Regions from separate parts of the Homo sapiens genome. Here all the other regions are linked to region 4. Evidence: fine-mapped expression QTL. A gene starts in region 4. Each other region holds a variant in brackets. All regions are shown on one strand. Distances are between the middles of the regions. Region 1 overlaps CRBN (cereblon). Region 2 overlaps CNTN4 (contactin 4). Region 3 overlaps TRNT1 (tRNA nucleotidyl transferase 1). Region 4 holds the start of TRNT1 (tRNA nucleotidyl transferase 1). Region 5 overlaps CRBN (cereblon). Region 6 holds the start of CRBN (cereblon).

What was found. PIP is the estimated chance that this variant, and not a neighbour inherited with it, causes the effect.
Region 1: its variant is the best candidate, but not a certain one, in a credible set for the expression of TRNT1 in activated CD8 T cells (Schmiedel 2018, PIP 0.51).
Region 2: its variant is the best candidate, but not a certain one, in a credible set for the expression of TRNT1 in monocytes (TOPMed, PIP 0.71).
Region 3: its variant is the best candidate, but not a certain one, in a credible set for the expression of TRNT1 in blood mononuclear cells (TOPMed, PIP 0.71).
Region 5: its variant is the best candidate, but not a certain one, in a credible set for the expression of TRNT1 in testis (GTEx, PIP 0.72).
Region 6: its variant is the best candidate, but not a certain one, in a credible set for the expression of TRNT1 in whole blood (TOPMed, PIP 0.52).

Annotation. Positions count from the first base shown.
Region 1 is chr3:3,171,453-3,175,452 of GRCh38, reverse strand. It overlaps CRBN (cereblon), which reads left to right. Exons shown (of 11, transcript NM_016302.4): 2 at 184-290; 3 at 1,192-1,394; 4 at 2,528-2,677. Among named protein-coding and RNA genes, the nearest start is that of CRBN, 6.2 kb to the left of the region's middle. The variant A/G (reference allele first, on the strand shown) is at 1,610.
Region 2 is chr3:2,506,216-2,511,823 of GRCh38, reverse strand. The region is part of intron 3 of CNTN4 (contactin 4); the gene reads right to left. Among named protein-coding and RNA genes, the nearest start is that of CNTN4-AS2, 360 kb to the right of the region's middle. The variant C/T (reference allele first, on the strand shown) is at 3,293.
Region 3 is chr3:3,146,639-3,150,696 of GRCh38, reverse strand. It overlaps TRNT1 (tRNA nucleotidyl transferase 1), which reads right to left. Exons shown (of 8, transcript NM_182916.3): 7 at 2,994-3,247; 8 at 1,674-2,791. The coding sequence ends at 2,543. CRBN (cereblon) reads left to right here. Exons shown (of 11, transcript NM_016302.4): 11 at 1-686. Among named protein-coding and RNA genes, the nearest start is that of TRNT1, 22 kb to the right of the region's middle. The variant A/G (reference allele first, on the strand shown) is at 2,141.
Region 4 is chr3:3,123,928-3,128,643 of GRCh38, reverse strand. TRNT1 (tRNA nucleotidyl transferase 1) reads right to left here and starts at 1,704. Exons shown (of 8, transcript NM_182916.3): 1 at 1,654-1,704. It overlaps LOC124909339 (a long non-coding RNA gene), which reads left to right and starts at 1,813. Exons shown (of 2, transcript XR_007095786.1): 1 at 1,813-2,084. RefSeq lists enhancers at 1,141-1,220, 643-1,373 and a silencer at 1,581-2,000.
Region 5 is chr3:3,157,753-3,161,752 of GRCh38, reverse strand. The region is part of intron 5 of CRBN (cereblon); the gene reads left to right. Among named protein-coding and RNA genes, the nearest start is that of CRBN, 20 kb to the left of the region's middle. The variant A/G (reference allele first, on the strand shown) is at 2,005.
Region 6 is chr3:3,176,851-3,180,850 of GRCh38, reverse strand. It overlaps CRBN (cereblon), which reads left to right and starts at 1,160. Exons shown (of 11, transcript NM_016302.4): 1 at 1,160-1,230. The coding sequence starts at 1,164. RefSeq lists a silencer at 927-1,096. The variant A/G (reference allele first, on the strand shown) is at 2,311.

The DNA.
Region 1 (4,000 bases), 47 kb before region 4:
AAAAAAAATAGCTACTGACAGAGCCCAGCACGGACCCCAGTCCTCTGGCTCCCTCTTCACGGTGCTGTAGAGTTTACCAAATGCATGTGGTTTTAGAAGTACCCCTCTTTTGAAGAAGGAATTACATGTTTGAAAGGTTTTCATTCATCTTTTTTTTTTTCTTACAATATTCTACTTTTATAGCAGAGAGTGAGGAAGAAGATGAAATGGAAGTTGAAGACCAGGATAGTAAAGAAGCCAAAAAACCAAACATCATAAATTTTGACACCAGTCTGCCGACATCACATACAGTATGTAATTTAGTGACAGATCTAATATAATAGATATACATTTAAATGTAGATAAAAGTTCATAAAAACAAGTGACTGATATTTGTATTACTAGATATCAGAAATTGTGGATGAGGACATGGGCTATTTGCCAGTAGATAAACATTTAACTGTAATTTTTAAGAAGCTTAATACTATGTTGTGGTAGAATTGTTTGAGGAATTGTTGCTCTTTATACTCTTTCTGGTAATTGAGCTATTAAATACTTCTCTGTACTTCTAGGTACTAGAGTGTTATTGAACATACTAACATTTTATACTTACTGTTTGTGATATGTGGGCATAGAGATATTTCTTGGTAAAAATAATACTTTGTACTAAAAAAATTCTTGAATTTCTGTGTTTGTGATATATTCATAAAAGATTAGAAATTCTTCTAAGAGTTAAAGTTAGATTAAAAATTATATTTTAACATGGGATGCTTATATACCACGTTTATTAAGTGTTTGTAACCCCATTTGTATTTTTTTCTTTTTTTTTGAGACAGAGTGTTGCTCTGTCGCCCAAGCTCGAGTGAGTGCAGTGGCACAATCTCAGCTCACTGCAGCCTCCACCTTCCAGGTTCAAGTGATTCCCCTGCCTCAGCCTCCCGATTAGCTGGGATTACAGGTGTCCACCACCACACCTGGCTAATTTTTGTATTTTTAGTAGCAACAGGGTTCCACCATGTTGGCCAGGTTGGTCTTGAACTCCTGACCTCAGGTGATCCGCCTACCTCGGCCTCCCAAAGTGCTGGAATTACAGGTGTGAGCCACTGTGCCCGGCCTGTATTTCTTTTAATGTGATTTGCTCTTTAGTCTGTTGAGCTTACATTTTTATTACATATCGATCATGACACTATACCTATATATGTTTTTATATAGTACCTAGGTGCTGATATGGAAGAATTTCATGGCAGGACTTTGCACGATGACGACAGCTGTCAGGTGATTCCAGTTCTTCCACAAGTGATGATGATCCTGATTCCCGGACAGACATTACCTCTTCAGCTTTTTCACCCTCAAGAAGTCAGTATGGTGCGGAATTTAATTCAGAAAGATAGAACCTTTGCTGTTCTTGCATACAGGTAAAATATTAGAGTCCATTTGCTTAATACATTCCCTCTCATGGGTAATTGCAGTGGTCAGTGTTGAAGCCAAAGCAGGCTGTTATTTCGCATGTACAGGAGAGGTTGGGTAAGAATGTGAGGTTAGGAATTTGGTTAAGTAGAAGTTTGATAGTGCAAGTTGGAGTATTTTTGTTCATTTCATTACCATCTAACTCAGCTCTTCACCTTCATAC[A/G]CAATTTAACTTTCTGGTATTTGAAAAATTTTTAATCATTTATATTTGATGAAAAACATTTCTGGAATCTTAGTTTCAATAACTGTCTTCATTATAGAGAAGTAGTGCTTTTTTATTTTAACGTAAAGGATTACTTTTCCAAAAGAGTGGTCTTTTCTTTCCCTCTCTCTCAAAATTCATAGGTTGTACCACTTTAAATTGAAGCTGAATTTTAAGTATCCCATGGCAAATAAAGGAAATCTGCGGTAGAGGCAGGAAATACATACAGGAAGCTCCCACCCCAGTACAGTGCTGCCAGTAAGCAGCAGAAATGATAAGTCATTTGACAGAGTGAAAGAATGTTTGGTTTGGGAAATGAGTTTAAACCCCTGTAAGTTCTAAATTATTTTCAGTGACTAGAAATCTATTATTTTCCTAAAGTTCTCTAATTGTACTTCCTGAGTCCTTCTTGTATATCCCCCATGTGATTTAAAAATAAATAAAATTGGCCGGGCATGGTAGCTCACGCCTATACTCCCAGCACTTTGGGAGGCCGAGGCGGGTGGATCACCTGAGGTCGGGAGTTTGAGACCAGCCTGACCAACATGGTGAAACCCCGTCTCTACTAAAAATACAAAAATTAGCCAGGCGTGGTGGTATGTGCCTGTAATCCCAGCTACTCAGGCAGCTGGGGCAGGAGAATCACTTGAACCTGGGAGGCAGAGGCTGCAGCAAGCCGAGCTCATGCCACTGCTCTCTAGTCTGGGCAACGCAGCGAGACTCCATCTCAAACAAATAAATAAATAAATAAAATTATCCTAGCTTTGTAGTAAGGGTTGATTCTATAAATTGTTTACCTGTATTTATTGCTTTGCCTACTTTGCATATATTTAAAACTCAAATGTTCAAAATTCTTTCCTTTTAAAATTTTCTTGGAAGCAATGTACAGGAAAGGGAAGCACAGTTTGGAACAACAGCAGAGATATATGCCTATCGAGAAGAACAGGATTTTGGAATTGAGATAGTGAAAGTGAAAGCAATTGGAAGACAAAGGTTCAAAGTCCTTGAGCTAAGAACACAGTCAGATGGGTAAGAAATAACATATACCTTAATGCTCTTTGAATGTTTCCTAATGAAATAGTTTTCTTGTACTTTTTCTGTTCTACTGAGCCTTCATATTTTGTAACTTTTAACTAGTTGTTCTCTTTCCCTTCTAAGGTATAGCCCAGTGGTTTCCAACCTTGCTATGCATCAGAATCACCTGGGAAGCTTTTAAAACTATAGAAGCTTGAGTTCCAACCTCATCTCCCATCTCCAGAGAGTGATGAGGCTGCAGCATCTTTTAAAAATGATTTTCAGGTGATTCTAATGTCTCTCCAGGTTTGAGAACAATCATGTAAATCCAAAGGGAAGTGTTGTTTGGGATTTGGCTTCTTTAGGATTGAAGGCCTCTCGGAGCATAAGAGGATAGGGAGACCAGAGGCTTGTGAGCTGTTCGTGTGCTCACCAGGACAGCTGTGGTTTTTGTAGCATTGCTATGATGTTTGAAAGCCACACTGGTTACATCTGCCTACTGCTCCAGCTGAGCTATAAAAGCCATTTATATTTCGTGTCCCTCTCCAGTGTGAATTTTATATCACCCAGAAATGCTATTTACATAATAAATGATCAATAAATACTTGTAGTCTATGTGCCTTGTGACATTTAGAAATTCCCTGAGTATACTGTTTCAGCAGTAATTCATTTTGACAAAGCTGTCATGGCTGGGTTTTGCACAAATTCAAGGGATACACATTAAAACAGACACAAAAAAGTCCAGTTTATTTTATCCTCTTTTAAAAAGGAAACAAAGCATTTGCCTTGATCACTGGATATTACCTCTTAACGGAGTGCTTCTAAACTGTGGCATCACCCGTGAGGTCTCACAGATACACAGTCCTGGTACGCAATACAAGTACTAGTGAATTGGTTTCCAATTTATACCCACAGTTGAAAATCTCATCAGACCTCTGTGTTGCCCAGGTGGTATCTTCTGAACACATGCAAGTTCTGAGTATTTTGGGGTTTTTTTGGGCGGGGTGGGGGATTAAGACTGAAAAAACAATGTGAGCAGCATGAGGGCAGGAACGTTTTGTCTGTTTTGTTCACATGGTGGGCGTTCCTATATATTTTTGAATTATGAAAATATTGACATGTCAGGTAGCTCCTTGGAGCTAAAGAGAGCATAGAGGCATGTGAGATGGGATTGCCAGAGCTCTTAGGGTGTTTAGTTCTCCCCAGGTACTTTTCCAGAACATTCACTGTGCAAACTTTGATAGCCTTACCACATTGCACTGTCCTGACAGGATTTTATGTACGTCTCCCTCAATAGATAAGCTGCTTGAGAACAATGACCAAGACTTATTTATGTTT
Region 2 (5,608 bases), 620 kb after region 4:
GATCACACTCTACCTCACCAGCTTGATTCAACAAAGAGCAATGGAACAGAAAATCAAATGCAGCTTGCAAAGTCACATTCACATGGAGCTGTAGGGAGAAAGAGGGGGGTAAAACCTGGTACTTACAGACTGTAAAGTAAAATGTCCCAGTTTCGCTTTACATGTTACAGCAAATCAAACAGAGATTTCAGCTCTCAGCAAGTCCCTGCTTCCACTACACTGATCATCCACGCAGAACAGGCCCTTATGGATTGCTTAGGCAGCTGGGAGATAATGGGACCATATTCTCAGCTGGGACTAGAGATGCTGAACTGCTCTCCGCTGCGCGCTGCATGGCTCTCCGCCAGCATTCATCAAGGAGGACCCAGCTTCCTGGCTGTGTTCCCCAAAGGATCGACATAATTAGCACACGAATCAAAGACGCACACTGGGAGAATCACACACATCTCTAACTGGCTCTCCTCGCATCGAACCTGATTAGGAAATCAAGTTTGTTCTCCGATCAAATGTGTTCAACCTTTCAAAAATACACAGAGGCTCACACAGCTGTTGATAGATTTCGGGGGAGGGATGGAGATTAAGGCTTCTTTCCCAATGGGCAATTTATGTAATTCCTCAACTACAGAATATAATTACACTGGTTGTTTGGTACATAGGGTGGGTTTGCCCTATGATTCGGTTTGTCTGTTAGGGATTCTCAGCAGCTCCCAAGAAGGTTGTGGGTAGCAGCATCATCTCTTCTACGGATTTTATGCGACATACACGTGTATGTTCTTTTCAGAGTCAGTCTTTGGGGACACTGGCTGAACTAAAGCTGGTGTTTATGGGGGTGTTTCATGTTCCCCAAGTCGTGCCTCTTCATTGAATACTAGAAGTCCAGGGCATTCAAAGCAAAAGGGTTTGGCATGGCACACTTGGGACATCTAGTATTCTAAAAGGAACTGGTGATATGGATTCCATTTGCATAACTGTAAGAACACTCCTCCTTACTCTGTCTGCATCGTGATGCAGTCAGGGGTTATAAACCAGTAGCCTGTGGACATGCTTGGTCTGGCAAGAGAGAGATTTGAGAATCTGAATGTGAACATTTTTAAACAGAACATGTGTTCTGCGCTTTATCAAAACCTTGCCACACACGCTTTTGCCCAGACATGCTACCTGCTGGCCCCGGAAGACATTTGTTTATGTAAATTTGACCTTAGTTAAGCAAGTCTGGGTTATGGATATAAAACATTCCATTTTAGAAAAAGGGAGACTCAGCGCCTGTGTCACTCATAAAAAGGCTGTGATTAAGGCACCCGTGTGATCATTTAAAGTCCACCACACGCAAAGCAGCCAGTAGTTAAGGAGCCTGTATGATAAAGAAGGGAGAACATTGAGGGAGTCAGAAATCTGAGTTCTAATCCTCATCTTGCTGCAAAAACAAACAAATAAACAACAAAAAAAAACCCCAAACAAACAAACAGGTGATCTACACCTTTGTGAGTCTTAGTTTTCTTTTCTGTACAATAAGGGCTTTGCTGCAGACCTCTGAGAACGCTTACAATGTGACATTCTATTCTTGTCCTAAGATCTAGAAAATAGACCTTCACTAGAAAGGTGCTTACACCTCGTAATAGCACTGGGGTGACGGGAGTGAAATAAAGTCATGCTTTTTTGACTGGCAAAAATTTGGGGATGGAGGGTCTTTGTTACCTTTAGGGGCCAGTGATCAACTGGCTACTAACCAGCTGTTTCAGAAAACTTGAAACATCATGCTCAGTAAGTGTGAGTAAATTTTAAATGTGTGGGGAAAAAAGACAGCTTGGGCAGGAAATGGTCTTATTTAGTTGTACACAAACTGTGTCTACCTGATAGTAAAACACCTGGGTGAAGAACCAAAAATCCAATCAGAATGTTTTGTCTTCATGGTGCCAATCAGAAGAGCTCTGGGATTTTGTGGGGAAAGAGTCTTTATATTTAATGTGGATTTCTCCATCTTACTTTCTTTCATCCCTACTATCCAAAGGTAGAGAAAGGTGAGGCTTTCTTCACATGGTTAGTTATGTTATCTTTTGTGAAAAAATGTGTATCATTGAGGCCAAGACCACCCAAACTGTGTTAGCGTTTTGATTGTCTTAGGGAATAAAAGCAAAATGGATCAACACTTTCGTGATGCCTTACTCAATAGCTAGAAAAGTATTCTCTCCCAAAGGATACATGATTGGGTAAAAGATGTCCACTACCAAACCCTTCTGTGCCCATTATCAACTCAAGTATCCCCAAAACAGATCCATGCCCTCGAATAGATTTATTACCAATAGTTAATGGTAATGATATGCAAAGTGGGGTACAAAGAAACAAGGCAATTATACATTTTTGAAATTTTACTAAACTTTTGAGTAATTTTGTGTTGGTTCAACATGTTTTTTAAGTACTTTCAATCCAATTTCTGTAAGGTAACCAGTTTCTTTTTTTCTTCAGATATTATTACATTTGGCATAACTTGTAAAATGACTGGCACGAATTTCATGTTGGTTATTTTTTATCAGGCTCATTATTATTGAGACTTTAGCAGATCTACTCCACGCAGCTCGTGTGAGGTTCTGACAAAAATAGGTTAATTAAATAGCAATTGTGCACCTCAGTCATATTAGCAAACATATTGCTGAAGCAAATGAAGAGAGGAGAAATTAAAATACCAAAGTGTTTATTCAGTGGTACAGCCGAAATAGTTTAATTGGTTTTAAGTTCTATTCAATCCCTGTTTGCCTGGTAATTACTTTGATTAATCTTTGATTATGATATGTAATAGATTCACTTTGCCATCATGTGATTTGCACTTGTTTTTAATGGTAGGTGTTAATTACTAACTAAAAAATTTCCAACTTCCATCAATTCTTCATACATTTCTCCCTAGAGATATACCACTTAAAATATGAAGTGTTTATAATAAAAATCTAAATCTGGGAAATGCCTGATTTTTTTTCATTAAAGGGCATAGCCAACATTAAAGTCCAAATAAATATAACAAAGAGAAGGAAAAAAGAGACCAACATGACTAGTTACCACAAACAAAAGAAATGGTCTTCTCAAAGACAGTAGAACCTGCTATTTTACCTCAGAATATATTTTAGAAGCCAAAATGTATACAGAGATTGTTTTAGACTTGGTATTGAAACAGCAAGAAACGGCATCTCTTTGGAACTGTGAAGAGTCTGCAATTTTAACAACACTCTTGTCAAGGCTAATAAGAACCTGGGGGATGGGGCTCCTGAGGTCTCTTTCTGGCCATTACACAAGATTCACCAAG[C/T]TAAATACAGCTCAAAACCTCAGCAAATCTAGGGGCAGAATGAAAGTTATGGGAACAATTTCCCAACAGTTTGAGGCTTAATCAATATTTTTAAATGCTTTAGAATCTTCAGCAATAAGTCACCAGATGTGCATACAACTGCTCATTGCTTCTTCTTGAAAGTGTTTTCCTATTCCTTGCATCTCTCACTAAAAGTCAGAGTCAAAAGCTGAGACAACTGTGACATTTCTCCAGCTGGGAACAAAATTTCAAAAGGGATGGTTCAGAAATTGCTGCCCAGGGCACCTACTGGAATGATAATCTATGCAGCAATGATTGAACCTTCTTTTCCAACCAAAAGCAATGGAGCCAGTAATAAAATATTCAAGAAGTAAGCCAAAAGTATGGACGCACATAAGAAAATATGTGGCCATATTAATTTTCCATGAGATAATCAGATTCTAATAACAATGACCCAGAGACCAGGGTCATGAAATTAAAACAGTCTGTGGAGAAAATAGCCCATTTAAATAATTATGTCAATGTGACATCAAATTGACCTATGAGCTAGATAAAAGGGTGCAATATGCCTTGATATTCATCTACCACTAACTGCTCAGAAATTTGTAGTCACTATTAGCAAAAAATTTGAGGGGGTGTGTGTGTGGAGAGGGAGAAGAAAAGAGAGAGAGAACAAATTGTTTTATGAGTGTTACTTCTCATTTAATTTTTGGGGGAGAACTGACTTATCCTTATTTTAATGGCTAAAAAAAAAAAGCCAATTTTCTTTTTTCTTTCTTTCTTTTTTTTTTTTTTTTGAGACAAAGTCTCTCACTGTGGCCCAGACTGGAGTGCAGTGGTGCAATCTCGGCTCACTGCAACCTCCGCCTCCTGGGTTCAAGTGATTCTCCTGCCTCAGCCTCCCGAGTAGCTGGGATTACAGGCGCCTGCCACTATGCCTGGCTAATTTTTTGTATTTTTAGTAGAGACGGGGTTTCACTATGTTGGCCAGGTTGGTCTTGAACTCCTGATCTTGTGATCTGCCCACAAGATCACCTCCCAGAGTGATCGGGCCTACCAGAGTGCTGGGATTACAGTCATGAGCCACCGCACCCAGCCAACACAAGCCAATTTTCTTAACATCCAAGAAGAGAACAAAAATCCTTTTCCTCAGAAGATTCTGATTTTCCTTCCAACAAAGACAGTTTAAAAAAAACCCTGATTTTTGGTTGTTACCACTTGGGGTAGGGGTGCTACTGGCTGTTATCATCCTACCAAGCACAGGACAGCCCCCCACAGCAACGAATTATCTGGCTCAATATGTTAACCTCAATATGTTTAAGATACCCTGGCCCAAGGGAAGCATGATGGGGTTCTTATAGTTGGAATACCGAAGAACTGAGTGCTGAGATTAAAACCCGACTAAGTATAAATGTTGGTGCTCTACATATAGCTGCAGTAGCTGTACTAAACTGTTTTGCCTTGGAAGTTATTTTAGACGTTTCAGTATGCTTTCACAAAAATTACCACATTCAGCACAATGAGCTAGTTCAAAAGCCAAGAATGTCCTATAATTCCAAGTCTATCAATGCAAAACCGAACATGAGCCTCAGAACACATGACTGGAGGCATGATCGCTAAATAAAAACGTCAAGGCCCTCTCTCCTCACTAGATTATGCCTCAGAAAACCAAGTATCACTACAAAAAAAAATCTCATTCCAGCCTCTCTTGCACTCCCTCTCCCGTCTCCCACCTCGAAATGCACACAACTCATAGGCAAAGTGAGCTCCATGTACTTCCAAATATCTTTTTTCTTTCTATCTCTATGATTGTCCCTAAATAGATGGGCAACATTTTGCATGTTCCTCTATCAGGATTCTGATCTTACTCCTGAAATAGATACAGTTTTAATACAGAGTTGGGATGCAATGCAAACATGCTTCAATTCATGAACTTTCATTAGGAAATCCGTTGTTAGACTGCTTTTGTTTACTCATTCAACAAATATTTATTGAGCACCTACTAACTCACCATCAATTTAAATTATTGGAGGAAGAAATTGAATCTCTCAGCATCTTCTTCCCTTATAGACTTCTATGCATTTATATGGTATCCCCTACATCATTCTGTCTGGCTCAGAAAAACTTTAGTGCAGTTCTCAGCATCCACTAAGGTCATTATTATTTATAATCGGCTTTTTCACTAACGTGGTGCTCCACGGACTCTTCGGCTCTGGTACTGAGCTCTTTTGTCGGCTCCAGGGCGTGTAGGCGCTAGGTAGATAGCAGAGGCTTTTCATTTTATTCTTTGGCATCACTTCCATCAACTATGAAAAG
Region 3 (4,058 bases), 22 kb before region 4:
TTAAGTATACTTTAGGAAACAAGCATGAACGGCAGTCTAGAATACCAGAAACATCTACTTGGGTAGCTTGGTGCCATTATCCTGTGGAATCTGATATGTCTGGTAGCATGTCATTGATGGGACATGAAGACATCTTTGGAAATGATGAGATTATTTCCTGTGTTAAAAAAAAAAAAAATCTTAAATTCCTACAATGTGAAACTGAAACTAATAATTTGATCCTGATGTATGGGACAGCGTATCTGTACCAGTGCTCTAAATAACAAAAGCTAGGGTGACAAGTACATGTTCCTTTTGGAAAGAAGCAAGGCAATGTATATTAATTATTCTAAAAGGGCTTTGTTCCTTTCCATTTTCTTTAACTTCTCTGAGATACTGATTTGTAAATTTTGAAAATTAGTTAAAATATGCAGTTTTTTGAGCCCACGAATAGTTGTCATTTCCTTTATGTGCCTGTTAGTAAAAAGTAGTATTGTGTATTTGCTCAGTATCTGAACTATAAGCCCATTTATACTGTTCCATACAAAAGCTATTTTTCAAAAATTAATTTGAACCAAAACTACTACTATAGGGAAAAGATGCCAAAACATGTCCCCTCACCCAGACTAAACTTGATACTGTATTATTTTGTTCAATGTAAATTGAAGAAAATCTGTAAGTAAGTAAACCTTAAGTGTGAAACTAAACATGTTCTTTGTTCAAATAATGTAAAATATCTACTCATAATTTTAAAGTTCTAAAAAGGCTGCTTTGCCACCTACCTCTTTGCTTATATTCAAGGGTTTAGTGGGTCCTTCCTTCCACATTTGTATGATAACTTTCGTTTTATTGGTAGTCCTTTGCTACTTTAAAACTAATCAGGTTAAATGTTTACTCAAATGTAGTAATAGTATGAGGCCAAAATACATGCCTTGAAGGTGGAGTGAAATCAGTTGAGTGTCACACTGCATATTTATGTAAATAGAGTAAATGAAAATTCAAGAATACTTCCAATCAGGATATGCCCCTGCCTTATTTTTTCTAAGGTCTACTTTTACTACTTTAATAATTTTGGGTTTGTGTGACTTCACTGGTCTGGTTTGTTCCTATAGTTCTTACACTGCACTAAAACTTACTTACTCCAGGAAGTTCCTGTCAGTAGCATAGTACCTCTCTGTAGGCTGAACTCTAAACCAGTTGCAATGAGTTACCTTGTCCCTCTGAAAAGTTAAAATTTCAGTATGTCCCATACCGTTTACTAGCAAATAAAATTTTCTGATCTGTAAAAACACACATATACTATACTACTACTGAAAATGGTTTTACACATGACAAAACCAGACCTGATAGCTAAATCTGCATACTTTCTATACAGAAATAGTATGTATTATATGACGTTGGGTCTAAATCTGTATTTTGGCAGTACTTAAATATTTTAAGTAAGTATTTCAAAGTATTATTTTATAATGCATCTAATTACTGACCTGTATGCAGTCATTTCTGAGGCTTTCTTGCATCATAGCCCCTGTGACATTTCCTCTTAGAAATATTACACTCTACAAAATTGTTTTATCAAGGTCCAAAATTACTATTTGCTCATAGAGTACAAAGATGTTATGACTGGCTACACAGAAAGGAAATAAATTATGAAATGTCAGTATAGCAGCTGAAATTATAGCAGCTGAAATAAACAGTTTGTATTATACATTTTATTTACCTGATGAAAGCATTTAGGACTCAAATCTTTAGAGAATATATAATAATAGCCATATCCTTTTAATTAATAAAATAACACTTTAAAGACAGGCATATTACCATTGTATATGACACCTAATACACATTGTCAGATACCACATAAACATATTTATCTTCCAATACCAATGTTTGTTTTATTAAAACAATAATTAATTAATAGGCTCAATAGTGACCCTCAAGTTAATCCCATGACTTCCCCAGGCTCTGCATGCATAAAGAAATCATTGTGACAGAAAAATATCAACCACATACTGAAGCATAGCTTGCTAGAACAAATCCTGTACATATGAATGCCAGCAACTGGGGACACATTTAGTATTCACATTTTATGCAAACTTACTTGGTCAATTATTTCTTTTTTAAGCACAGGTTTATTTTGGAATTCAGATAAGAACTGACACATCAT[A/G]GACAGTCATTGTTAAGGTAACCCTGTTATTTCAATTGCAAACAAACAATAAACGTTTTTTCTTCAAGACAGTTACCACTTTTTAAGATCTTAGTACTACCCTATGCAAAAACAGTTTTTTTTAAAAGCCTGAACAGGTTAAGATAGATAATAGCCAACTATGTTTTCTCAGGTGAAACTATTCCAAAAGAACTGTACATTTCAGTGATATAAATCAGATCCAGAAAGGTGGATCTCTGTTTAGTTCTTGAAATATATAATTCACAAAATAAGACCCTTGTTGTTCTACAGAGGTCCCCTAAACTGTCTTTTATTCTGGTGTAGTCTCTAAAACCTCATTAAGAGGGAGGGGAGAAAATTTAGTCTTACCAGAAATGCTCTGCTTTTTAGTAGCCATCAGTTTTAGGTCTTCTTTATGTAACTCAGAAGTTCATCTTTTTCCATTTGGTAACCACTTTTTTTCCACTGTTCTCGCAACTGTTGTAATAGAGCCCCAATTTCTTTTCCTGAAGAAATGCCCACTTTTCTGATGTCATGGCCACTTACAGGAAATGGAGGAATGGACCACTGCTGCATTTCCTTTAGGAGACAGTGCTCTCCTTGGTACTTCAGTAGTTCACATACACGAGTAGTTGCATCAGGTTCCCTAGACTACGTGTCAAAATCAAACATTTAGTTTCGTCACACATGAAAACATACACTTACAATCTTATCCTAAAATTTAAATACTCAACATAAATTTTTTCATTTAAAATAAGTAAAATTCACAGATTTGTAGATCTTAGTTTTAATAAATTAATTCTAAATTCGTGACGATACTTCATATTTCTGACCAAGCCTAGTATATACTTACATCTATAATGAAGTCTTGATAGGGTTTCAATGGGTCTGAACTATCTGTTGCTTTAATTAAATCTTTCCTATTTTTAACTATAAATAAGCCAAGGTTTTTCTCCTCTTTTGCGATCTTCAACCTCAAATCCAATTTTGTGACATCATCTTGTACTTTGAATAATGAGGCCAAAAGAGTCACTGGCTTTGGTGAAAAACCATCAACATTTTTACTGACTTTGTCAAATTCTTCTAAACTTGCATTAGCAGGTAAACCTGTAGGGACAAAAGCATTTTTCACCTGTTTTTAGTGGGGATAAAAAACCACTCATATCCTAAACCTTGCCACCATTTTAGTATCCAGAAATGCTTTGTCACTAGGATACATTATATAGGTTCAGTCTGATGTTCCAACTTAAAGGCGAACCACTAATATATTGTTATTCTCTCCCCTGTCACCTTCAAAACCTCTAAAATGTTCTTGTTTCCATTAAAGCTACATCAAGAGTTCCAGGGGTAGTGGTGACAGTGGTGTCAGACTCACAAGGCATACTCTTTCTAATCACAAATTCCTGACTTTACACTGATACAAGATCCACCCCCCATTCAGTAATGTTACTGAAATTTGAAATATGCCCAAGCTTACCGAAGTGTGATAAACCATATAATCCCACTATTCTCTGTGAAAATGAATTACAACGTTTACTGAACAATTTCTGTGTACAAGTCACTCTTCTAAAAGAGCTTTACATGTATTAACTCACTGAATCCTTTTAGCTTTCCTATTAGATAGAGGCTACATTACTTTTAAACCGCTTTTTTGGGTTAGAAACTAACCCAAGTTGCAAAGACTAGATAAGGGGCTGAGCTTCCTTCAAACCTAGGTCTGACTAGAGACTACTCTACAAGCACCACAAGCTGTCTTTGAGCTCTTCCCTACTCACGACAAAACTTACCCCATAACCCAAACTTTGTCTTATTTTAAAATACTCCATTTCTCCAAGAATTCTTCAACCAAATGAGTCAAACATTTTTTCCTTATGAAATTTGAAACCAGATATTTCACTGCCAAAAATTCAAACACTTT
Region 4 (4,716 bases):
TGATAAAATAACAAAGGAATTCTTTTTTTTTTTTTTTTTTTTTTTGAGATGGAGTCTCGCTCTGTCGCTCAGGCGGGAGTGCAGTGGCGCGATCTCAGCTCACTGCAACCCCTGCCTCCTGGGTTCAAGAGATTCTCCTGCCTCAGCATCCCAAGTAGCAGGGATTACAGGCGCACACCACCACATCCGGCTAATTTTTTATACTTCTGGGTAGAGACGGGGTTTTACCACGTTGGCCAGACTGCTCTCGAACTCCTGACCTCAAGTGATCTGCCCGCCTCAGCCTCCCAAAGTGCTGGGATTACAGGCGTGAGCCACTGAGCCCGGCCACAAAGGAATTCTTAACAGGACCCGTTTAGAATTAAACAAGTTTTACTGGGGATCTGAGGAAACTCCCCAGGCCTCCACGAACAAGTTTATTAGGGGTCTGAGGGAACTCCCCAAACCTCCATGATTTAGCAGGAGAGAATATAAGGGTAATCACCCCAGCACCTGGACCCATTTAGATTAAGTAAATTTACTCAGGCTCCAGAGGAAGGTCTTCAGGACTCAGATCTTATGGGTAAGAAGTTAATCACTTGTATCTTTAGATCAATGCACACTTACACATAAACATACAACTTACAAGGTATATAAGCTCTGGAAAGCTCTGTAATTCTGAGTCGGTCTGGGATATTTTCCACGCCTTCGCCCCGTACCTGGTTACAGAAATAAACTCCTTTCTTTCCTAGTTTATCTGCATCTCATTATTGGGCAGCGAGAATAAGCAGCCCAACCCTCGGTTTGGTGGTTTGGTCGGGGAGCATTACCACGACACTCGCATGCCACATGGTACTGTGATGACACTCTCCCCAGAGCAGGGCTTCAGGCAGTATGAGAGGGATGCGGGGTTCTAGAAACTCTAACCGAGTTTCTGGTCTCCAAAACTTGTCATGGTCACAGGTGGGTATCACCCTACTTCCCCACCTGCACTCGAGGATTCACGACCCTGGGATAGCTCCTAGACATTGTATTTTCCCATGAATTTAGTTTTGCTGCCCCCATTTTCCTGATTCTTTTCCTGCCATCTTGCAATCTCCTCTGATTTCTGGCACACCGCGGCCTTCCCTTCTACATATCACATCCTCGTTCTCCCCATACGGGGGTCCTGCCCATAAGGAGGCCGCAGCAGCTCTCGAGTGACCCCGGTGTAAACCTGCAGAGAAAAACCATTCCATTCCACGGAAGCGGGTGGAGGAGCCGCGCTTCCCGGCAGGCCACGTGGGGCGGAAAGACCCACTCAGTTTCCTCGCACCTCCGCCTCGACTTAGGAAAACGCTCTGGGGAACCCCAGCCCTGAAAAGGCGCGTCTCACCCCCCACGCCGGGTGCTGGCGACAAGGCCCAGTGAAAAAGCGTCTCGGGGCCGTCCGCGCGGAGGGGAAAGTGCTGAGGGAAGCCAAGGAATCCGCGCCTGCGGTCGCCGGAAACGTGGCGGGGACACGACCTCCGCGTCGGGGCTATTTTGCCCACTGCTGAGGAGGCCTCTCGCCACGTCCCGCTCCCGTCTTCCTCGAGGACCGGGCGCGGTGGCGCCTCTGGCCCACAGCAGGAAGGAAGGGGCAGCAACTCACGCCACCAACTCTGCCCCTCTGAGCGGCGCGCGCCCGCTTACCGGCCCCGCTGTTGCCGCAGCCGCCACCGCCGCCACGCGCACTTCCGGGCTGGTGAACGCGGTGACGTCACCAACGCACATGGGTTGGCGGCGAATGGGAAGTCGCGGCGGGGCGAGGGCGAGTGCGGGGGCGGGGCCCGGACCGAAGGGCTTCCGCCTCCCGTCGCTCCTCCCCACCGTGAGGCGAACCTCAGCCGGTTTCCCAGCCCCGCCGAGGCCCGCTGGGGCGAAGCGGAGCCCCGGGGGGCCCTGAGGAAACCGGCGCGGGTTCGTTTAATTACGCCCTTCTCGCCAGACCTCTGGCTGGCCCTGAGCTGCTCAGAAGCCCATCTGCGCGGCATGCCCGTGCGATCTGAGACAACTGGCAGCTGTCTTCCTTTGCAAAACGAGACTGTTAATAAAACCTACCCCAGGGTAGGACGGACTGTTCGGTAAATGTTAACTTATCCGTGTTTGACTATTCTCTCCTCTAATCTCTGCATAGGGTTAAGTCCACAGTTGACAGAGTCACGCGCATTCGAAATCTAAGCCCGCCGGTCCTATGAACTTACTGGGCATATTTTATTTTCTTACCTGGTTTGTGTAACCATTGGCCTCCTTGGCCCGGAGGCTTCCCATCTGTAACGTGGAGAACTTAGATTTGATCCAGTTCATTAATTCTTTCTAGAGCGGAAAAGAGCAAAGAGAGTGGCAAAGGAGTGGGAATACAGCCGTTGAGCCCTTAAAGTGCGAAAATGTGTAGTTTTTGTTTTGTTTTGTTTTTGAGACGGAGTTTCGCTCTTGTCGCCCAGGCTGGAGTGCGGTGGCGCGATCTGGGCTCGCTGCAACCTCCGCCTTCCGGTTTCAAGCGATGCTCCTGCCTCGGCCTCCCGAGTAGCTGGGATTACAGGTGTCTGCCACCACGCCCGGCTAATTTTTAGTAGAGACGGGGTTTTGCCGTGTTGGCCAACTGGTCTCGAACTCCTGACCTCGTGTTCCCCAGGCCTCGGCCCCCAAAAGTGCCGGGATTACTTTTGCCGGGATTCGGCCACTGCGCCCGGCCGAAAATGTGTAGTCTTTTAAGTGTAACTTTACATCACTTAGCTTTCCCTAAAATTTTCCTAGAAAAATGCTTGTGCATGTTATTTCTGTTCTTTTGCCCTCCCCACATGCCTACCTGTTCTTCCCAAACTTTTCAGCCCCACTCTCTGTAGACTTCCTAAAACGTAAAAAGTAAGATGTGCAATTACCACACCTCTTCAAGGTGTTGAATATCCTGTTTTTGGAAGCACAGGACTGGCTTTCCAAATGGACATTCAGAGGCACAGCATTGATATCATCCGGTGCAAGGATTTTCTGTCTCTCTCTCTCTTTGGGGCAAGGAAAGCCCCAAATCATCCTTTCAGGCTTGTCTGCTATTTCTCACCACCATGACCCTAGACAAACTGGACCAAAGCCTCCATTGCTGTACCCACCTAGAATAGATTCTCCAAATCACCACCTATGAAGGCAACGCTAATACAACTATTATGATGACTTACTTCGTGCCAGTTACTGTGCTGGGCACCCTCAACAATTTCTGGCCTTGTAAATATATAGTTTATATATGCAGGTGTATATACAGTTGTCCTTCCGTATCCATGGGGTATTGGTTCCAGAACATCACCCCAGCCAGTGTTCAAGTTCTTTACATAAAATGGCATAATATTTACATATAGACTATACACATTCTGTAGTACAAATCATTTCTAGATTACTTATAATACCTGATATAAATGCTGTGTAAACAGTTGTTATGCTATATCGCTTCTTTGTGTTTTTTAATTGCTATTTAATTTTTTTTTTTTTTTTTGAGATGGAGTTTCACTCTGGCGCCCAGGCTGGAGTGCAGTGGCACGATCTCAGCTCACTGCAACCTCTGCTTTCCAGGTTCAAGCGATTCTCCTGCCTCATCCTCCCAAGTAGCTGGGATTACAGGCACCCGCCTCCACGCCCGGCTAATTTTTGTATTTTTAGTAGAGACGGGGTTTCACCATGTTGGCCAGGCTGGTCTTGAACTGCTGACCTCAGGTGACCCACCCACCTAGGCCTCCCGAAGTGCTGGGATTACAGACGTGCGCCATGGTGCCCCAGCCTTATTTAATATTTTGACCTGTGGCTGGTTGAATCCACTGATGGAGAACCCATGGCCATGGAAGGTCAACTGGAGAGAGAGAGAGAGAGAGAGAGAGGAGAAAGAGAGAGAGTAAGAGAATTCCTCCTGTACTGGCCAAGACAATAAAACAAAAATAGGGGTATTACTACAGATCATGTAGATATATATGAGGAGGTATTATAAACAATTTTATGCCAATTAATTTGACAATGTAGATGCAACGCACCAATTCTATAAAAAAGACAATTTATCAGAACTGAAATAGGGTAGAATTTAAAAATCTGAATAGCTTTTCATTTTTAAAGAAATTGAATTGTTGTTCAACAGACTTCTCACAAAGATAATTCCAGGCCCAGATGGTTTCAGTGGTCAAATTTATCAAACGCATAAGGAAGGAAGAACTCCAGTCTTGTGCAAAGTTTGTTTAGAAAATAGAGGAGGAAACAGTTTTCCTCTCATTTTGAGGCCAGCATAACCCGCATAACATAAAATCAACACTACAAAAAAATTAATATACAGCTTAATATACCACATGACCATAGAAACAAAAACAACTTTAATAAAATGTTAGGAAATTGAATCCAACAGTATATAGAAAGATAATACATCATGATCAATTTGGGTTTGTCCCCAGTGCAAGGAATGCAAGTTGTATTTAATGATCTAAAACCAATCAACGTAATTCACCATATTAACTGAAAAAGAAAAACTGTTGTCATCACAATAGATGCAGAAAGACCACTTAAAATTCAATCCCTACTCATAAAAACTGCCAAAAAAATTAGAAGGGACTTCCTCAATATAGTAAAGGTCATTCATGAAAAATCCATAGCCAATATCAGACTTAGTGGTAATATATTGAACACTCTCCCCCTTATATCAGGAAGAAGGCAAGGATGCCTCATCTTACCACTTCTTAACATTTGTCT
Region 5 (4,000 bases), 33 kb before region 4:
GAGTGAGGTTATTGGCTCACAGGGTAAATGCATTTATAATTCTGTCAGTTTTAAAAATAATTTTGAGGCCAGGCACAGTGGCTCACGCCTGTAATCCCAGCACTTTGGGAGGCTGAGGCGGGTGGATCACAAGGTGAGGAGTTCAAGACCAGCCTGGCCAAAATGGTGAAACCCCGTCTCTACTAAATATACAAAAATTAGCCGGGCATGGTGGCGGGTGCCTGTAATCCCAGCTACTTGGGACGCTGAGGCAGGAGAATCACTGGAACCCGGGAGGCGAGTTATTTTCAAAATACTTAAGGTGTTTGTACTTATTTTTATTGTTTCATCATGGCCTGACAGGCAATGTAGTATCAAACCTGATGTTTGCTGATCTGATAAGTGAAATATATTACATTGAAGGTTCAATTTGAATTTCTCTGAGAGCAAGGGTAAGCATTTTGTTGTAAGAGCAGTTTGTGTTTCCTTTCTGTAAAGTGTTTGCCCATTTTTCTACGGCTTGTTGATTTCTTGGGAGTTCCTTGTAAGCTTTATAGTCTCTGTAATTAATGAGTTCCAAACATTTTTCCTAGTTTGTCTTTTGTCTTTTGTTTTTGGTGTGGTGTGTCAAACAGAACTGTTTTTTTGTTGTTGTTCTTACATAGTTTAATTTTTAATGCTTCTGTATTCTAAATCATAGCCAAAAATGACGTTCCCATGCAAAGGAATGTCTCATGTTTTCTTTGGATACTTGCTGTGGTTTCATTACTTTTCCGTGGAAAGCTCTGATCCTTGTGCAGTTGATCCTGATATAAATTCCACTTTACTTTTTTCCAGATGGCTCCCTATTGTCCTACTACCACTTTTTGAATAGTCCATATTTTCTCCCATTGATTTGAGATGCCACCATTGTCACAGACCAAATTCATATGTTTATTTTACTTTTCTTCTCTTTTGGTCTGCTTGTGTGCCATCATCATATTGTTGTTAATGTTGGCACTTTATACTTTGTGTAAATAAAAATAGGGCTGGTAAGCCCCTCACTGCTTTTTTGTCAAGCTTTTCAGTGACTACCATTGATTAACATTTCCTTGTGAACTTGAGAATCTGTTTCACCTTGTTCCAGGATAATAATCGTAAGAACAGTAACATTTATTGACTATTTTTATATAAAGAAGAAAAGTCTTGAAATCTTAGGCTATGTATAGTCAGGTGCTTCCTCAGAAAGACTGGTCATTTCCCAGGCATACATCTTGTATGTACACTTGTGTATCTGCCATTAGCGTATAAGCCTCAGGAGTAGGAAAGAGCTTATCATTCCATCCCAGTTCTTATTACCATGTAGGAATTTGGTTCATGAAAGAAGGAAACAAAAACTGGTAACTTTTTAATTATTTATATAAATTATTTCTGTCATTTACATTGCTGATTGTAATAGGATTTAACACAATAAGTGACCACTTTTAGTCACTATATAAAGGAAGTCAGTGGTAGTGATTTACTATTTATGTTTAGCTTTTCACATTACTCTTTCCATTTTCATTGCACTTCAAAGACTCACTTAAATGGAGTTTCACATGTTTTGAACATTCTACGTTGTTGGGAGGCAAAGCCGAAGCCATAGTTATGAGGCTTAAGAATGGAGGACTGTGATAGATTACCTCCAGGTAACAGATTCGTTTTAAGGGCTTTTATGCCTGCTTTCAGTAGTAAATCCTGTTCCCAGAGTGAATACTACTCTGCTGGAGAATCCGTCATTGGTCACTTTTAAGTGCCTAAACTTTTTGGCTAGTATTAAAATTTTCTTGAGGTATAACCATTTTATGACATCAATCATGGTGTTGATATATTTAAAGAATGCCTATAAATTGCTAGAACTTATCATCCATTTTACCCAGATATAAGACAGGAGCCTTTCCTATTGTGCCAGAAAGCTAAATGGGACTCTTAAATTTGAGGATGTTGAAATGTCTTAAACTTTGGCAGTTGCTCTGTAAAAGCTAGCTAGCTAATCTGTTCTGGTAT[A/G]TGTCTCTTCAGTGTGTCTAATTGACTAACACACATCACAAATATTAAGGATGTATTATGCATATTTGAATCTGTCAGGATGCTCCAGATAAAGAATTTTAGAGGTCTTCTGACTCTGAAAAGAAGCTACCTGAAACTGTAGCTTGCTCATGGGCATGGTGGCAGAGTGAATGCCTGATCCAGTGCATTGCTCTTAATATGCTAGTGTGCCACATTTTATTCTCTTTATACTTGAAATTTACATATTATTTCAGATTCTTTTTCTTGACATGGGTGCCAAATGAAATTACACTTTTGTACTACACTTTTTTACATTTCTTTTGTATTACAAAAGTGACCATTCTGATATGTGAAGTATATTTTAATAACTGAATGAGGAGTGTGTCAGCGAAACTAAAACTTTCAGTTGGGTCTTTGTCATTTTGTAATTCTAAGAATATATAGCTTCTTCTCTCTAAAATATAAGCTCGACAGGGTATTGAATTTTGTTGGTTTTTCTTTCATTCACTGGCATAGCCTAAATGTATAAAAATAGCCTGACACATGTTAGGCACTGTATTAGTCTGGTCTCACGCTGCTAAGACGTACCCAAGACTGGGTAATTTATAAAGAAAAGAGTTTTATTTGACTCACAGTTCAGCATGGCTAGGGAAGCCTTAGGAAACTTACCATCATGGCAGAAGGGGAAGCAAACATGTTCTTCTTCACATGATGGCAGGAAGAAGTGCCAAGCAAAAGGGTCAAAACCGTCTTAATAAAACCATCAGATCTCGTGAGAACTCACTATCATGAGAAAACCATGGCAGTAACTGTCCCCATGATTCAGTTACCTCCCACCAGATCCCTCCCACGACACATGGGGATTATGGGAACTACAATTCAAGATGAGATTTGGGTGGGGACACGGCCAAACCCTATCAGGCACTCACAATATTTGTTGAATGAATGATGGTTAGAGTCAGACTCCCTGTATACAGATCCTAGCTCCTTCCTATTTACTGACTCTGTGACCTTGAGCAAGTTATACCATCCTTGTGTGCCTCTGTTTCCTTACTTTAGAATGGAGATAATAAACTACTAACCTTAGAGTATTCTTACAAGAAATGTGAAATTCTTGGCACAATACTAATGGTTGCCATTGCTGTTCCTGAAGATTCAGAGCTACTTGATGTGCTCTTGGTAGTATTTTCTTAAATTCTGTAACTGGACTGTGACAATAATCTTACCATTAGGTATTTAGTCTTAAAAGTGAGGGACAACTTATTGGAGAGTACCTGAAGGGTCTCATGGTCTGACTCCTCAGGCTTTAACCACTACCAGAGCACACAGTAGGAGGCCATCTCAGATCACCTTTGGCAGGGGTCCCCAAATCCTGGCCCACGAACCAGCACTGGTCTGTGGCCTGTTAGGAACCGGGACGCACAGCCGGTGGTGAGTGGTGAACGAGCAAGTGAAGCTGAGCGCCACCTCTTATCAGATCAGTGGCAGCATAGATTCTTATAGGAGCGCAAACCCTATTGTGAACTGCGCATGGGAGGGATCTAGACTGCGTGCTCCTTATGAGAATCTAATGATAAATGTAATGCACTTGAATCATTCCAAAACCATCCTCCACCCCATCTTTGGAAAAACTGTTTTCCACGAGACTGGTCCCTGGTGTCGAAAAGGTTGGGGACGGCTGATCTTTGCATAGTCTCAAATATAAGGATTATATTAAGCCAGAAATGTTTCTCATTAAGGAATCCTTTGTTTTGAGCTGTAGGTCGTGTTTTAGAACAAGTCTGTCCTCTTCCATATTGCAACTCCTAAAATATTTGAAAACCAGTGTGTCCACTTGAGAGACAGCTCTAAACTGAACATCTCTGGTAACAAGACATTCCCTTTGATAATAAAAGTTCCCATATTTGAACAGCATGGAATAGAATAACATTGTCTCATAGATTCTAGTCTTCTGTTAAAACCGCAGTTACTTTTGCACCAAACTAACATAGCTAGA
Region 6 (4,000 bases), 53 kb before region 4:
ACAAATAGGCGACACTATTTGGTTCGTTCTTATTTTGCAAATGGGCGAATTGAGGCCCGCAGCCATAAGTGATTTGACGAAGACCACAGACTGATTCGGAGACAGGAGGCAAAATGACACAGGAATGATTCACAAGCCTCTGTCACAAGGGAGTTTTCTGCTTGTAACTTATCAGGGAGGCAAATTTTCTGAAATCATTTTTTCAAATCTCAGATCCATGACTTTTCTGTTGAGCAATGCTGCTGCTTCCTCTCAGCCTCCGCCCACCACCACCACTACCATGTTTAGATGTTGTATTTCATTTAAGGATTTTTCAGTTTTCCTTCCTCGCTGAAAAAGTGATACTGAAATACACTACGAAAACTTTTGTCCTCCCTCCAAAACAAATATCTTACCAGTCACAACTCCACCATTATAACAGAATTATCTTCATTTTTTACATAGTCTTTCTTTTTTGCCACAGTGACTTGTTTTTACATAGCTGAAGTCATAATGAGTAGGCTAGTTTATATTCAGACAATTTTATTTACCAATTATAAGGCGTTTTCCATTCTGTGCAATCATCATTTCAAGTATGTTTCTGATTAATACTTGTTAATTTTGGAATGTAATGTACATATATGGAAACTACTGAAGTTATTGAAGTTGTATGTACATACATTGAAACTACTGAAGAAAATCAGCAATAATTCAACCACCCTCGGAATAACTGATGGATTTCCCCAGCCTTCACATATATGCTTCTTATTTTAAGAATTGAAACTAATGCTGCATGAACAGGTTTCTATTTGCTCCCTGCCCCCTTCGTTTAAAAACAAGGTGGAGACTAAAGGCTCTCAGCCTCAGTTTCTCCATATGCAAAATATCAGGATTAAATAAGTCATGCTAAGGGCTGGAACAAAGTGAGGGCTCTGCAGCGTGTACGCCGGGCACTCAGCCGTGGATGGCAGGGGACGGCGTTCTGTCCCCGGGACGGAGCGCAGGCCTGTAATTGTCCCTCCCGCCTAGGCCATCACTTTCAGGCTTGGGTACGCGCCGCCGTCTGCTCCCCTGGGGCCGCCAGGGGGCGCTGTGGCCCCGGTGCGCGGCAGCCGCGCGACACGGGCCCTCCCTCGGAGTCTTCGGCACCGCCCTGTCCCAGCCTCCTTTGCGGGTAAACAGACATGGCCGGCGAAGGAGATCAGCAGGACGCTGCGCACAACATGGGCAACCACCTGCCGCTCCTGCCTGGTAACCGCCCGGAGTAGTTCCCTGTAGTCGGGAGTGGGGCGAGGCTCGGAGCCGCTAGCGGTGCAGCTGGGCCTGGGAGGCGGGCGTGGGGGCGCCAAGCCTGGCGAGCCAGCCCAGCAGGGCCGCACCGGAAAGCTGCTTCACGTCGGCCCTCGGCCAGCGATGGAGTCGCGGCGCTTTCTTCGCTGCTCTGTTGCCCCGAGCCGTGAGCCAGGGTGTCGGGGGGAGCATTTGCTATTAAGAACAGGAAACCCATCCTCTCCATCCTCCTTGTGTTCTGAGTTTAGCTCCTAGGAAATGCTCTGAAACTAGAGGACCGGGTCAGATTCACAGCGGTTACTTTTGCTGGTCTCCTTCCTTTTAATAAGAGTGACAGCTAACATGTACTAAGCACTTACCATGTTACGAGCCGTGCAGTTAACGCTTTGCATGCATGTCGCCTTTTAATCCTTCCCACATCAGTTTTCAGTTTCCGATTTGATAAGCGAGTATTGGATTTGCAGATTAGTTCAATGACTTGCCCAAGGTCACACAGCAGAGTCAGGATTCCAACCCGGGTGTGTCTGTCATTATATCTCTAAACCACTTCTCTGTTTTGTTTTTCTTACTATCGGTCTTTCTCAGGCATGTACGATTATGCTTAATCAGAGATACTTAGTTTTTCTTTTTCCTGTATGTTGTGTGAAATGTTTAGACTTTGGCCTTGTGTTGAAATACTGAACAAAAAAAAAAATGCATGGAATATTGCATAAACTTTTCATGGAATGCCTTTCAAGAGATGCTTTCCAAAAGGTGTATCATCCAAACTTGAAAGTATTACTTGAGTCCCTTCGTTATATGACAAGTATGTTAGGTGTTGTGGAGATGAAACGAGAGGTAATACACAATCTGATAATTGAGGTTTACTGTCTAGGCGGGGCTGCTGAGAATATAACTAAACGTAAATCAACTGCAGAGGCGGTTGATTTAGGGCCAGATAAATGAATGCTGTTGTGGCTCTTCAGAGGCAGAGGTTGTTTAAGGGTCAGAGGATTTGGGAAAAAGCCTTTCAGGTAGATCAGGAGACATCTAAAAGCACAT[A/G]TTTAGGATATGGTTGTGGGACATAAGGCCTAGGAGGTATATTGGGTCTAAGTTGCTGGGAAACTGGCATCTCTTGCCAGTGGGTTTGGGTTTTTCCTGTGGATTGCCAAGAAACAGTTTTAGGTTTCAGGTAATTGCCTAAAGAAATCTATGCTTGGAAGATTAATTTGTCCACTGGTAGCAGCATGGATTAAAAGAGGAAGAGACTGAGTGCGTGCCCACCATATAGGAGAGAACTTTTCTGTAAAAATAAACCATAGTCACTGGTTGTTCTCGAAGCCATTCTAGCTGAGTTGACACAAGGGTAAGTGTGCCAGCCTTTGATGGAAAGCTGAGCTATTTTTTCAGAGACATTAGCCCTACTCTCTGTGCCAAATCCGGTGTTTCAGGGAGAATGGTGAATAGAAGAGGGAGGATACTGATCTTCTGTCGACATTCACATCGTGCCTCTGCATGAGATGAGTCATCAGACTTCACTGATAGCTCTGAACAGTCAGCGTGGTTTTTTGTTTGTTTTTTTTTTGTTTGTTTTGTTTTGTTTTTTGTTTTTCAGAAAAGCGTCGGGAGAGGGCCCAGAGATGGTGTAGATATAGCAATAATGCCTCTCCAAATTACGTAAATTTTATTTGTAGGGAAACACTGGGCTTTCCATAATTCCATGTAGTACGAGTTGTTCTGAAGAGTAAATCCTCTAAGTTCCAACAAAAAGCTTTATATTTGAGATGTGAAGAGTTTATCCTAGGCAAATGAAACATTAATAAACATAACTGAGTAGGGGAAAGTGGTTTTTAGCCATATTTATGAAAAAAAGGTTACTAAAGAAATTATTTAGAGACTAGGAGTCAGAACAGTTAAAATGTAAATTTTTAACAATATTAATTCCAGCCTTTGAGCTAATAGTTTATCTTTTAAACTTTCTGTAGTAGAGCAATAAAGTGGGTTGTGCTGCATGCCAAGTGATAGCCATACTGTCAGAGTTGGAAATACAAACAATTTGATGCAGAATATTTTTGTCATCCATTTAGATAGCTCTTTTTTTATCTCAGTGAAACTTACATGTTCCAAGGAAAATTTGTATGAAGTGTTAGACCATTGGCTATTTACATATAAGTTGAAGTAATTCTGTTTTTGACAAAGTTTTATATCTAGGAAGTTGTAATAATAAATAGAAAGTCCAAGGCAGTTACCATATTGAAAATCATTTTTATTTTCTGTCAGGGGCCTGGCTAGAGGTGGTTTGACTTAAATAATGATATGCAAAGGAAAACAAATGATTATTTCGTAATGACATTTTATCGATTTAGAAGTTTATTTGGGGCATTTAAAAATACATGAACTGGGAGGTGAGAAATGAGATTCAGTAATTCTTTATTGTTAGTCTAGGCCAGGGTCTCCCAACCTCAGCACTGGACTTTTGGGCTGGAGAATTCTTTGGGTGGGATTGTCTCGTGCATTGTAGGATATTTAGCTGCATCCCTGGCCTCTACCCACTAGATGCCAGTAGGACTCCCTTAGTTATTGCAACCAATATCCCCTGAGGGGCAAAATCACCTGTGGTTGAGAGTCACTGGTCTAGGATAGGAAATTTACTCATAGTTTGTATGAAAAGGACAGACTCACAGTTAGTACAATAGCATATGTATTGTGTAGCGTTTTCTAATTTTCTTTGCTGTCATTGGTAACATCTGGT